Linked DNA regions of Homo sapiens. The protein of the gene in region 2 purifies or fractionates together with the protein of the main gene of each other region. This does not show direct contact. Each region holds a gene or a part of one and is shown on either strand. Other genes may lie near its edges.

Region 1 (3,654 bases), on a different chromosome or scaffold from region 2:
TCCAGTTTTCCTTGTTCTGGTTTCCTTCCAGTTTCTTAAATGCAGTGGCATTTCACTGTGCTTTACTCAGAAATCTGTTCTCTCAAAGGAATTTCATGTGCTGTCTCCTACTCTCCACTGCCCACACAGAAACACGTTCCTGCTTCTCTTTAGAGTGGGGACTATCACCTATTTTATGGAAATACTTCTTTCAGAGGAAGCCCTCAGTGCCGAGTCTCAGAGAAAGAGTGCTGGTTAGGGAGGCAGGGAACTGAGCCTGTCTGTAAGGAGGAGCTGATGGGCAGGAGGATGTGAGACAGAAAACAGAACGGAGAGATGGGCAGGTACCGGAGAAGGCAGGAAACAAGAGGGCTGAAAGCACTAGCTTAAGAAGGTGCAGAAACACGAAGAGGACAGGCTAGAGCACTGATGTGGAGCCGAGGTGGGCAGAAGGTACTAGCACCGCTGGATCCTCCCTCCTCGGGAGGACAGCACGTGCAGCCATCTGCCGAGGGAGGTGTGGAAGTACTGGAAACCTGCTCTGGGGGACATTCAATGTTATCAGTGATGATCTCAACTCAACAACAAAATAACCAAAAATTTAAAAATGGGCAAGGGACCATTGGACATTTCTCCAAAGAAGATACACAGATGGCCAATAAGCACATGAAATGAGGCTCAACATCATTCACGATCATGGACAGGCAAGTCTAAACCACGGTGAGACACCACCTCATACCCCTTCGCATGGCACCAGCAAAGACACAGAAAATAACAAGTGTTGCAAGGGAGTGGAGAAACGCGAACCCACATTGATGGGAATGTAAAATGACGCAGCTGCTGTGGCGAACAGTATGCAGGTTCTTCAAAAAAGTAGAAATAGAACCACCATGTGATCCAGCAATTCTACATCTGGGTATGCACCCAGGAGAAGGGAAAGCAGGGGCTGGAAGACTTATTTGTACATACACGTTCACAGCAGCACTATTCCTAACAGACAACAATAGCCAGAAGGTGGAAGCAACCCAAGTGTCTGTCGATGGATGAGTGGATACACAAAATGTGGTCTAACCACACGATGGAATATTAGCCTTAGAAGGCAATTCTACACTTGCTACAACATGAATGAGCCTTGAAGACGTCACATTAAGTAAAGTAAGTCAGTCACAAAAGGGTAAATACTATATGGTGCTACTTATATGAGGTACCTAGAGGAGTCAAATTCACAGACACAGAAAGTGGAATGGTGGTTGCCAGGAGCTTGCGGGGAGGGATGAATGAGAAGTTAGTGTTGAACGGGTCCAGAGCTTTAGTTCTGCAGGATGAAAGGAGTTCTGGAGATGGATGGTAGTGATGGTTACACAGCATTGAGAATGTACTGAAATGCCACCAAATTTATACTGTAAAATGGTTAAAATGGTAAATGTTTGTATATTTTACCATAATAAAAACTTTTAAAATTCAGTATATGGAACCAGCCCAAATGCCCACCAATCAATGAGTGGATAAAGAAACTGTGGTATATATATACGATGGAATACTACTCAGCCAAAAAAGGAATGAATTAATGGCATCTGCAGCGACCTGGATGTAATTGGAGACTATTATTCTAAGTGAAGTAACTCAGGAATGGAAAATCAAACATCATATGTTCTCACTCATAAGTGGGAGCTAAGCTATGAGGATGCAAAGGCATAAGAATGACACAATGGACTTTGGGGACTCGGGGAAAGAGTGGGAGGTGGGTGAGGGATAAAAAACTACAAATTGGGTTCAGTGTCCACTGCTCGGGTGATGGGTGCACCAAAATCTCACACATCACCACTAAAGAACTTATGTCACCAAATACCACCCAAAACCTATGGAAATAAAAAATTTAAAAAATAAAAATTAAAAAAAAAAAGAGTGACCCACAAGAACCAAGGAGTCTCAAGGGCCAGAGGAGGATGGGTGAGGCTACCATGGAGGCAACTGCATCCTGGGCTCACTCCTCAGCAAGGCAGCCAGGAGCCCAGCGAGGCCCACAGAGGGGCAAGACCCAGTGAGGCCTCTCAAGTGTGCCTGCCTGCTTTGCCAACAGGCAGCTCCCCTGGCCCAAATCCAGACCAGTCCTAAAGAACAGACCATTGCCTCTATGGACAGCTCCCAAAAAGAAGGCCCAACACAGCTTTGAGCTGTGACAGCCCTGGGCGCAGCGCCTTCCAGGGGCCTCTTCTGATAGCAGCCCGCGCACTGGGGAAAGCGCAGTGGGCCACGGAACCCTGACTGGTAAACAAATTAGGGCACCCAGATGGACTCGCAAAACTTGTCTTGTTGCATATTTGTTGGTGGCTCAGCACCCTGAGCCTAGGCATCCTCTGAGGAAGAGGCAGGGGAAGGAGAAGAAAAAGAGCATGGGCACCTGTGGCCTGCCTGCTTTGTGGGGGACCCTCTCGGTTCCCGTGGAATAAGGCACCATCCCATCTGAGGACGCGCTGGTAAAGGCCACTCACCTGTGCAAACTTGGGTTCCGAGAACAGGGTGTCTTCCCCATCGTCCTGCCTGACATCAGGAGATGGCAGCTTCCCCTCGAGCTGGGAGGGGGCAGCCTCGTGCAGTGCACTGCTGAAGGCCTGGACAGGCTGGGGTCTCTCACGTTCGGTGCTCACGTTGGGAAGAGGACGCTGCTCCTGACGGAGGGTGCTGGGCCTTTCCACCTTGGCCTCCCTGTCCTTCGGGGCAGGTTCCTGCCGGTAGCAGGGAGGCAAGACCTTTTCCCCCTTCTCCATGGACTTGATCTGGCTAGGGGTCAGCGACTGGAACTCGGCCTCAGGCCCCTCCCCTCGGGACCGCTCAGCATTGATCTTCCAGAATGACGCTTCCTCCTCCTTCCTGGTGGGGCCCAGGGCGTCCAGGCTGGAGGACCTGCTGCCTTGGGAGGACTTGAGGGCCTGGGAGCCCTGGGAAGCTTTGGACAGTGGTCTGGGCTCGCTGGCGGCGGTGCCGTTGCTCGGCTCCTGGATGGATAGGGCGGAGATACTGAACTCCATCTGACTCTAGGGTGGGACATGAGAAAGGACAGAAAAAAGAAAGAGATCCTGAGAATCGACCGTCACAAGTGTGCCAGCTCACGCACCCCTCCTCAGCATAAGGACGCACACCAGCCACACACGAGTTGTTGCCCATGTGCTGGAACTGTCTGTCCTGAGTGGTGGGTATGGTCAGGACTCCCATCGCACACCTGAAATGCATCAGAAGCTTAAATGCCAAGGCCGGGTGACAGAGTGTGGGTGGTGGTCCCCTCCCAAATCTCATGTCGAACTGTAATCCCCAGTGCTGGAGGTGAGGCCTCGTGGGAGGTGTCTGGATCACAGGGGCGGATGTTGTCTTCATGATGGTGACTTCATGGCTTGGTGCTGTCTTCATGATAGTGAGTCCTCATGAGATCTGGTCGTTTAAAAGGGTGTGGCACCTCCCCCTGACTCTCTCCCTCTTGCTCCTGCTCTGCCATGTGAGATACCTGCTCTCCTCCGCCTTCCACCATGAGCCACAGCCCCCTGAGGCCTCCCCAGAAGCCAAGCAGATGCCGATGCCATGTTTCCTGTGCAGCCCGCAGAACCGTGAGCCAATTAAACCTCCTCTCTTTATAAATTACCCAGTCTCAGGTATTTCTTTAAAACAACACAAGAACACACT
Region 2 (3,126 bases):
ATTTGTACAAGATACACTAGACATGCAAACATAGGACCCTTGGCTTGCCTGGAGAAATTAGAAAAGACTCAACTTTTCTTGAACTAAAATTTGAAGGAAAGGAAGTTTTTCCAGATGACCAAAGGTCATGCATGGCTGTTCCTCAAACTCACCTGCCATTGTGGTAGTGGGTGGCAGGCCACTTGATTCTGTACAAAGAATCAATGCACATTTGGGATTTTTTTAAAAAATTAAAACCCCTTAAAATGGTAAATATAAAATTATTTTTATCCACTTCTTTATAACCTCATTTCATGTGGTGTTCAGATCCCTGCGCTTCTGGCGTCTATCTAGTCTACTGAGGGTACCAAAGCCTCATATCAGAGGCATGTACACTTAGTTATTATTTCTGGGTTGTAGGGAGGAATATGTAAAGAGGTTAGAGAAAACAAACAAGAGAAGGAGGAAGAATTATGAGAAAAGAAAGAAAAGTTGGGGGCGGAAGATGAAATAGAAAGAAGAGGAAGAAAAGCCTTCTCAGTCCAGGAAATCTCTGTATTTCACATCTAGCTTCCTTGAAGGAGCTGGACATGAAGATTCATGAGCCCAGAGGGGAGGTACAGCACCAAGTCTTGATGTCAAAGAACCGGTGGGCTACACCCTCACGTATCTGCTTAGTCTTCACACCATAGACAATGGGGTTCAGCATTGGTGGCACTGCCACATAAAGATTGGCCAGCAAGATATGGACATGTTGAGGAATATTACGCCCAAAATGATGGGTCAATAAGGTAAAGAAGGATGGAACATAAAACATAAGGATGACACAGAGGTGGGAGCCACAAGTGCTGAGGGCCTTGTGCCGAGCATCCTGGGAGGGCAAACGAAACACTGCTCGGAGGATCAGTGAGTAAGACACAGCGATGAGGATAACATCCAAGATGACCATGACAATGGGCACTGAGAAGCCATACCAAATGTTAACAGTGATGTCAGCACAGGCTAAACGAGCCACTCCAATATGCTCACAGTAGGAGTGAGGAACAATGTTGGTTAGGCAGAAGGGCAGCCGCTTCAGCAAGAATATGACTGGGAAGATGATGCAGAAGCTTCGGGTGATGACGGCCAGAGCAATCCTCCCCACAACAGGCCATGTTAGCACTGTTGTATATCTCAGTGGGGCACAAATGGCCACAAAGCGATCAAAGGCCATGGCTAACAGGATAGCTGACTCCCCCACAAACATCATATGGACAAAGAAGCCTTGGGTGACACAGGCATCAAAAGCAATGTTATGTGCTTGAAGCCAAAAGATGGCTAGGGCCTTGGGCACAGTGGTGGTAGACAGCAGGATGTCCATGACGGCCAGCATTGAGAGGAAGAAATACATGGGCACATGAAGGTTACGTTCCATGACAATAACCACTATCAGGATGCTGTTTCCCAGGACTGCAGTGATGTAAATGAGGCAAAGAGGTATTGACAGCCAAATGTGATAAGCCTCCAACCCAGGGATGCCAGGAAGGACAAAAACTGCAGGATGGAAGATGGTAACATTGGTGTGACTCATGATGCACTTTATGGTCCTCTCTATAATGACTTAGAAGCTGATGAGTCTACTGAAAGTGATAGAAACAGAAAGCACTCCCGAATATGTATAAATATCATAAAAGACAGCATGGATTTCTAAATTGCTGGACTCTCCAGCAGCAAGTACTCCCAGAGAATGTTCACTTGGTATAGGAATGGCTTCTGGCCCATAGTGCTTCCTTTGCAGATAGAGCTTCTGTGGCAATAATGCTTCAAGTATGAACAGAAGTGGCAGCACCTTCCTGCAACCACCCTGCCCCCAGAGTTTGGCCTCACTCTCCCTTTCTGACCTCATTCTACTATTTCCACACAAGCAGCATTTTCCACCTACCTGTGTTGTACTTGTCCCTTTCCCCAAGATTTTGTTCTGCATTTACCTTTAATTTCCCTCCCCTTCTACTTCTGTTTAACAAAATTTTAACCTTAAAATAAGTCCTCAAGACATACCACTTTGTAATGGTCTGTGTTCATAGCAATATATCTCCTTCCTAAAAAACTATTAACTAAACTATATTTTAACTGGGTTATATTTAATCCTATTAAGTTTATCTGGCTATTGCCTTGAACATTTCACAGGACACTTGCACCTCTGGCCCCTTGTGCAAGGGAGTAGAGTATCAAGTGGGAATCCAGAGGAAGCCTAGAGGGGTACATTTCTCCACTCTGATCCAGATTCATATCTTCCCTAATGCAGTGAGCAATGGGGCAGCCAATGAAACTGAGACAGGCAATTTTCATCACCAGCTCCTCATGGACTTCTCATGCTCCTCCTCAAATATTTCTATACAGGAGCCTCTTGGTTATGTCTGGGCTTCCTTATCTGTAGAAGCCCCCCAGGAAAACGATTCTGAGCAAAAGAAATCAATCTATTGCCCACCTGTAAACTCTGCTGACTCCACTAATACTGCCCTTCTTCCCACCCCACTGTTCCCCAACGCTCAGAAGGAACCATGTTTCCCTGCTGCCAAGAAGGATTAAGTATAGAGCCCTTCTTGGCTTGCCTGCCACTCAGGTAATATTTGTTTCATTCTGAAGTTCTGAACTATCTGTCAGCTATTAGGACTAGGGAAAGAGTGTATGATTAAGAATCTAGAAGGGAACATGAAGAAAAGGGACCACAGAGACAGTAAAGAGAGAATCAGAACTATAAAGGTACCAAATAAACACTAGACTGATCTTCTGATAATGGTATTCAGAGGGCCCCAAAGAAGAGATGCAAAGGAATCAAATCCTCAGTTTATTAGTCCATCCCTCTGCCTCTATGCAAATGAACTTTCTCAGAGCACAGTGGGCTGTGGGGAGGGAGCAATGGGACTCCAGATGGGTACAAGGAAGGGAATAGAGCCAGATCCAGACAAGTAAAGGCCGCAGGCAGGCTAATAATCTGACAGCATTCAAGTCAGTATATTTTAAATATTTGGGCCAGGCACAGTGTCTCATGCCTATAATCCCAGAAGTTTGGGAGGCCAAGATGGGAGGATCGCTTGAGGCCAGGTATTCAAGACCTGCCTAGGTAACATAACAAGACCCTGTCGCTACAAAACAATTTAAAAATTA
Region 3 (3,654 bases), on a different chromosome or scaffold from region 2:
ACAGAACATTAAAGTTTGGAAAAATTGCAGCCTGACAATGGAACAGAAAAAAAAACCCAGCCAGGCGTGGTGGCTCATGCCTGTAATCCAGCACCTTGGGAGGCTGAGGCAGGCGGATAACCTGAGGTCAGGAGTTTGAGAGCAGCCTGAGCAACATAGAGAAACCCCTTCTCTACTAAATATATAGAATTAGCTGGCCGTGGTGGCACATGCCTGTAATCCCAGCTACTCGGGAGGCTGAGGCAGGAGAATCGCTTGATCCTGGGAGGTGGAGGTTGTAGTGAGCCAAGATTGCGCCATTGCACTCCAGCCTGGGCAACAAGAGTGAAACTCTGTCTCAAAAAAAAAGAAAAGAAAAGAAAAACCCATTTTCTGGGGAGAAATTCAAACCAGCTACAGAAATTTGTGAGTAACGAGAAGCCAAATGTTAATCACCAAGACAATGGAGAAAATGTCTCCAGGACACATCACAGACCTTCATGGCAGCCCCTCCCATCACAGGCCTAGAATCCTAAAAGGAAAAAATGGTTGGTTTCCTGGGCCTGGTCCAGGGCCCCTTGCTGTATGCACCCTAGGGACTTGGTTCCCTGTGCCCAGCCACTCCAGCCATTGCTAAAAGGAGGCAAGGTACAATTCGGGTCATGGCTTCGGAGGGTGCAAGCCCCAAGCCACAGCAGCTGCCATGTGGTGTTGGTCCTGTGGGTGCACAGAAGACAAGAATTGAGGTTTGGGAACCTCTGCCGAGATTTCAGAAGATGTACAAAAACGCCTGGGTGTCCAGGCAGAGGTGTGCTACAGGGGCGGAGCCCTCATGGAGAACCTCTGCTAGGGCAGCGCAGAAGAGAAATGTGGGAACTGGAGCCCCCACAGAGAGTCCCCACTGTGGCACTGCCTAGTAGAGCTGTGAGGAGAGGGCCACCATCCGTCCTCAAGAACCCCAGAATGGTCAATCCACTGACAGTTTGCACCACGCACCTGGAAAAGCCACAGACACTCAGTGCCAGCTGTGAAAGCAGCCAGGAGTGGGGGCTGTACCTTGCAAAGCCACAGGGGCAGAGGTGCCCAAGGTTGAGGGAGCCCACCTCTTGCATCAGCATGACCTGGATGTGAGACGTGGAGTCAAAGGAGATTCTTTTTTTCTTTCTTTTTTTTTTTTGAGACAGAGTCTGGCTCTATCACCCAGACTGGAGTGCAGTGGCATGATCTCGGCTCACTGGAACCTCCGCCTTCTGGGATCAAGCAATTCTCCTGCCTCAGCCTCCCGAGTAGCTGGGATTACAGGCGCGTGCCACCATGCCTAATTTTTTGTATTTTTAATACAGACAGGGTTTCACCATGTTAGCCAGGATGGTCTTGATCTCCTGACCTCATGATCCGCTTGCCTCGGCCTCCCAAAGTGCTGGGATTACAGGTGTGAGCCACCGCGCCTGGCCAAGGAGATTATGTCAAAGCTTTAAGATTTAATTACTGCCCTACTGGATTTGGGACTTGCATAGGGCCTCTAGCCCCTTTGTTTTGGCCAATTTCTCCCATTTGGAATGGGTATATTTACCCAATGACTGTATCTAGGAAGTAGCTAACTTGTTTTTGATTTTACAGGCTCATAGGCAGAAGGGACTTGCCTTGTCTCAGATGAGTTTGGACTTGTACTTTTGAGTTAATGCTGGAATGATTTAAGACTTTGGGGGACTGTTGGGAGGGCATGATTGTTTTAAAATGTGAGGATATGAGATTTGGGAGGGGCTGGGGGTGGAATGATATGGTTTGGCTGTGTCCCCACCCAAATCTCCTCTTGTAGTTCCCATAATCCCTGAATGTCATGGGAGAGAGCAAGTGGGAGATAATTTAATCATTGGGGTGGTTACCTCCATGTTGTTCTCATAATAGTGAGTTCTCATGAGATCTGGTTTTATAATGGGCTTCCCCCACCTTTCCCCCACCTTTAGTCTGCACTTCTCCTTGCTGCTGCCATGTGAAGAAGGACATGTTTGCTTCCCTTCCACCATACTTGTAAGTTTCCTGAGGCCTCCCCAGCCATACTGACCTGTCAATGAAATCTCTTTCCTTTATAAATTACCCAGTCTTGGGTATGTCTTTATTAGCAGCATGAAAACAGACTAATACAGAGCCCTGGGAAAAACTAGGCTGAAGAGGCTGGGCACGGTGGCTCATGAGGTCAGGAGTTCAAGACCACCCTGGCCAAGATGGTGAAACCTTGTCTCTACTAAAAATACAAAAAAAAATTAGTCAGGCCTGGTGGTGGGCACCTGTAACCCCAGCTACTTGGGAGGCTGAGGCAGAGAATTGCTTGAACCTGGGAGGCAGAGGTTGCAGTGAGCCATGATCGCACCACTGCACTCCAGCCTGGGTGACAGAGCAAGACTCCATCTCAAAAAAAAAAAAAAAAAAAAAGAAAGAAAGAAAAACTAGGCTGAAGAGGTCTCAAGTACTCCTTCCTTCACCAAACTTGAGTCAAGCTCCTCAGAGCCCTCTTTTTGACTAGGGCTTGGCACTGGCCTGCAGAAGTCAGTTTCAGCAAGAATCCATCTAAGGTAGTTTATAGAGACTCCTCCTACCTTAATATCCAATCAAGTTCTTTTTCTCCCACCTATGAGACCCAACCAAGTTCCATTCTCTCCCTCACCTTGTACATTGGCTATAAATCCAATAATATTCCTGCTGCATTCAAGGCTGAATTCAATCTCCCTCCCCTATTACAGCTGTCATGACTCACTGCAATTGTGCTTAATAAACTTTTCCTTGACATTCTTAACAAGTTTCCAGTGCAATCTCTCTTTAACAGGGAACAAGGCTGTAAACTTGAGACCCTGGTTCATTTATCTGAAATGCATAGGGGATGACAGGCTCCCTCCCACTGGGGATGAAGGAGCTGGGAACCACACATGCCATTCTGCTGGGCCCACCCAAGTCTGAATCCATGGAGGGGGAGGGTGTCCTGAGAGTACCTCCCACCCACAAACCCAAAACACCAGGCTCAGATTTCTCTCTGGATGGCCACTCCCTGTTGTCACCCCATGATCTGGGTGAGATCCAGGATTGCAGGTGCACAACTGCCCAGAGAGAGGTCCAGGAGGTAGACTGCCTCCTACAGTGATGGGACAGGATACCTGGGAGTCCTGGCTGCCAATTCAGCCCCCACCCTGATGGAGTGTGATGGAGGGGACTGAGACTCAGGCTGCTTCTGGATAAGATGCCCCACCAGACACAGGATTTGCAAGTCGTTCTTCCACTTGGTGAATTATCTTTTCAAGTTCTTGGTGTCCTTTGAAGAACAAAAATTACCAATTTTGATGAAGTGTAAACTTTAGTTAGTAACATATTGGCTCACCAATTCTGATCATCATCATATATGATATATTGGTTCATCAATTATATGATATATATGATATCATATTTACGTACTTTGGGAGGCCAGGATGGGAGAATCACTTGAGCCAGGAGTTAGAGATCAGCCTGGACAACATAGTGAGACCCCCATCTACCAAAAAAAAAAAAAATTAGCCAGATGTGGTGGTGCACACCTGTGGTCCCAGCTACTTGGGAGGCTGAGGCGGCAGGATCACTTGAGCCCTGGAGGTCTAGCCTGCAGTGAGCAGTGATCGCACCACTGCACTCAAGCCTGGGTGACAGAGC

The links.
Region 1: the proteins of OR52B2 (region 2) and C1orf198 purify together in Homo sapiens (affinity purification with mass spectrometry; one large-scale study listed by BioGRID and IntAct). This does not show direct contact.
Region 3: the proteins of OR52B2 (region 2) and ZNF627 purify together in Homo sapiens (affinity purification with mass spectrometry; one large-scale study listed by BioGRID and IntAct). This does not show direct contact.

What each region holds. Positions count from the first base shown.
Region 1 is NC_000001.11:230,840,883-230,844,536, forward strand, and holds part of C1orf198 (uncharacterized protein C1orf198), read right to left. Parts: intron 3,015-3,654; coding exon 2,472-3,014; intron 1-2,471.
Region 2 is NC_000011.10:6,168,778-6,171,903, forward strand, and holds OR52B2 (olfactory receptor 52B2), read right to left. Parts: upstream 1,550-3,126; coding exon 578-1,549; downstream 1-577. UniProt on the Homo sapiens protein: Odorant receptor.
Region 3 is NC_000019.10:11,603,839-11,607,492, reverse strand, and holds part of ZNF627 (zinc finger protein 627), read right to left. Parts: intron 3,284-3,654; exon of another isoform or gene 3,129-3,283; intron 1-3,128. UniProt on the Homo sapiens protein: May be involved in transcriptional regulation.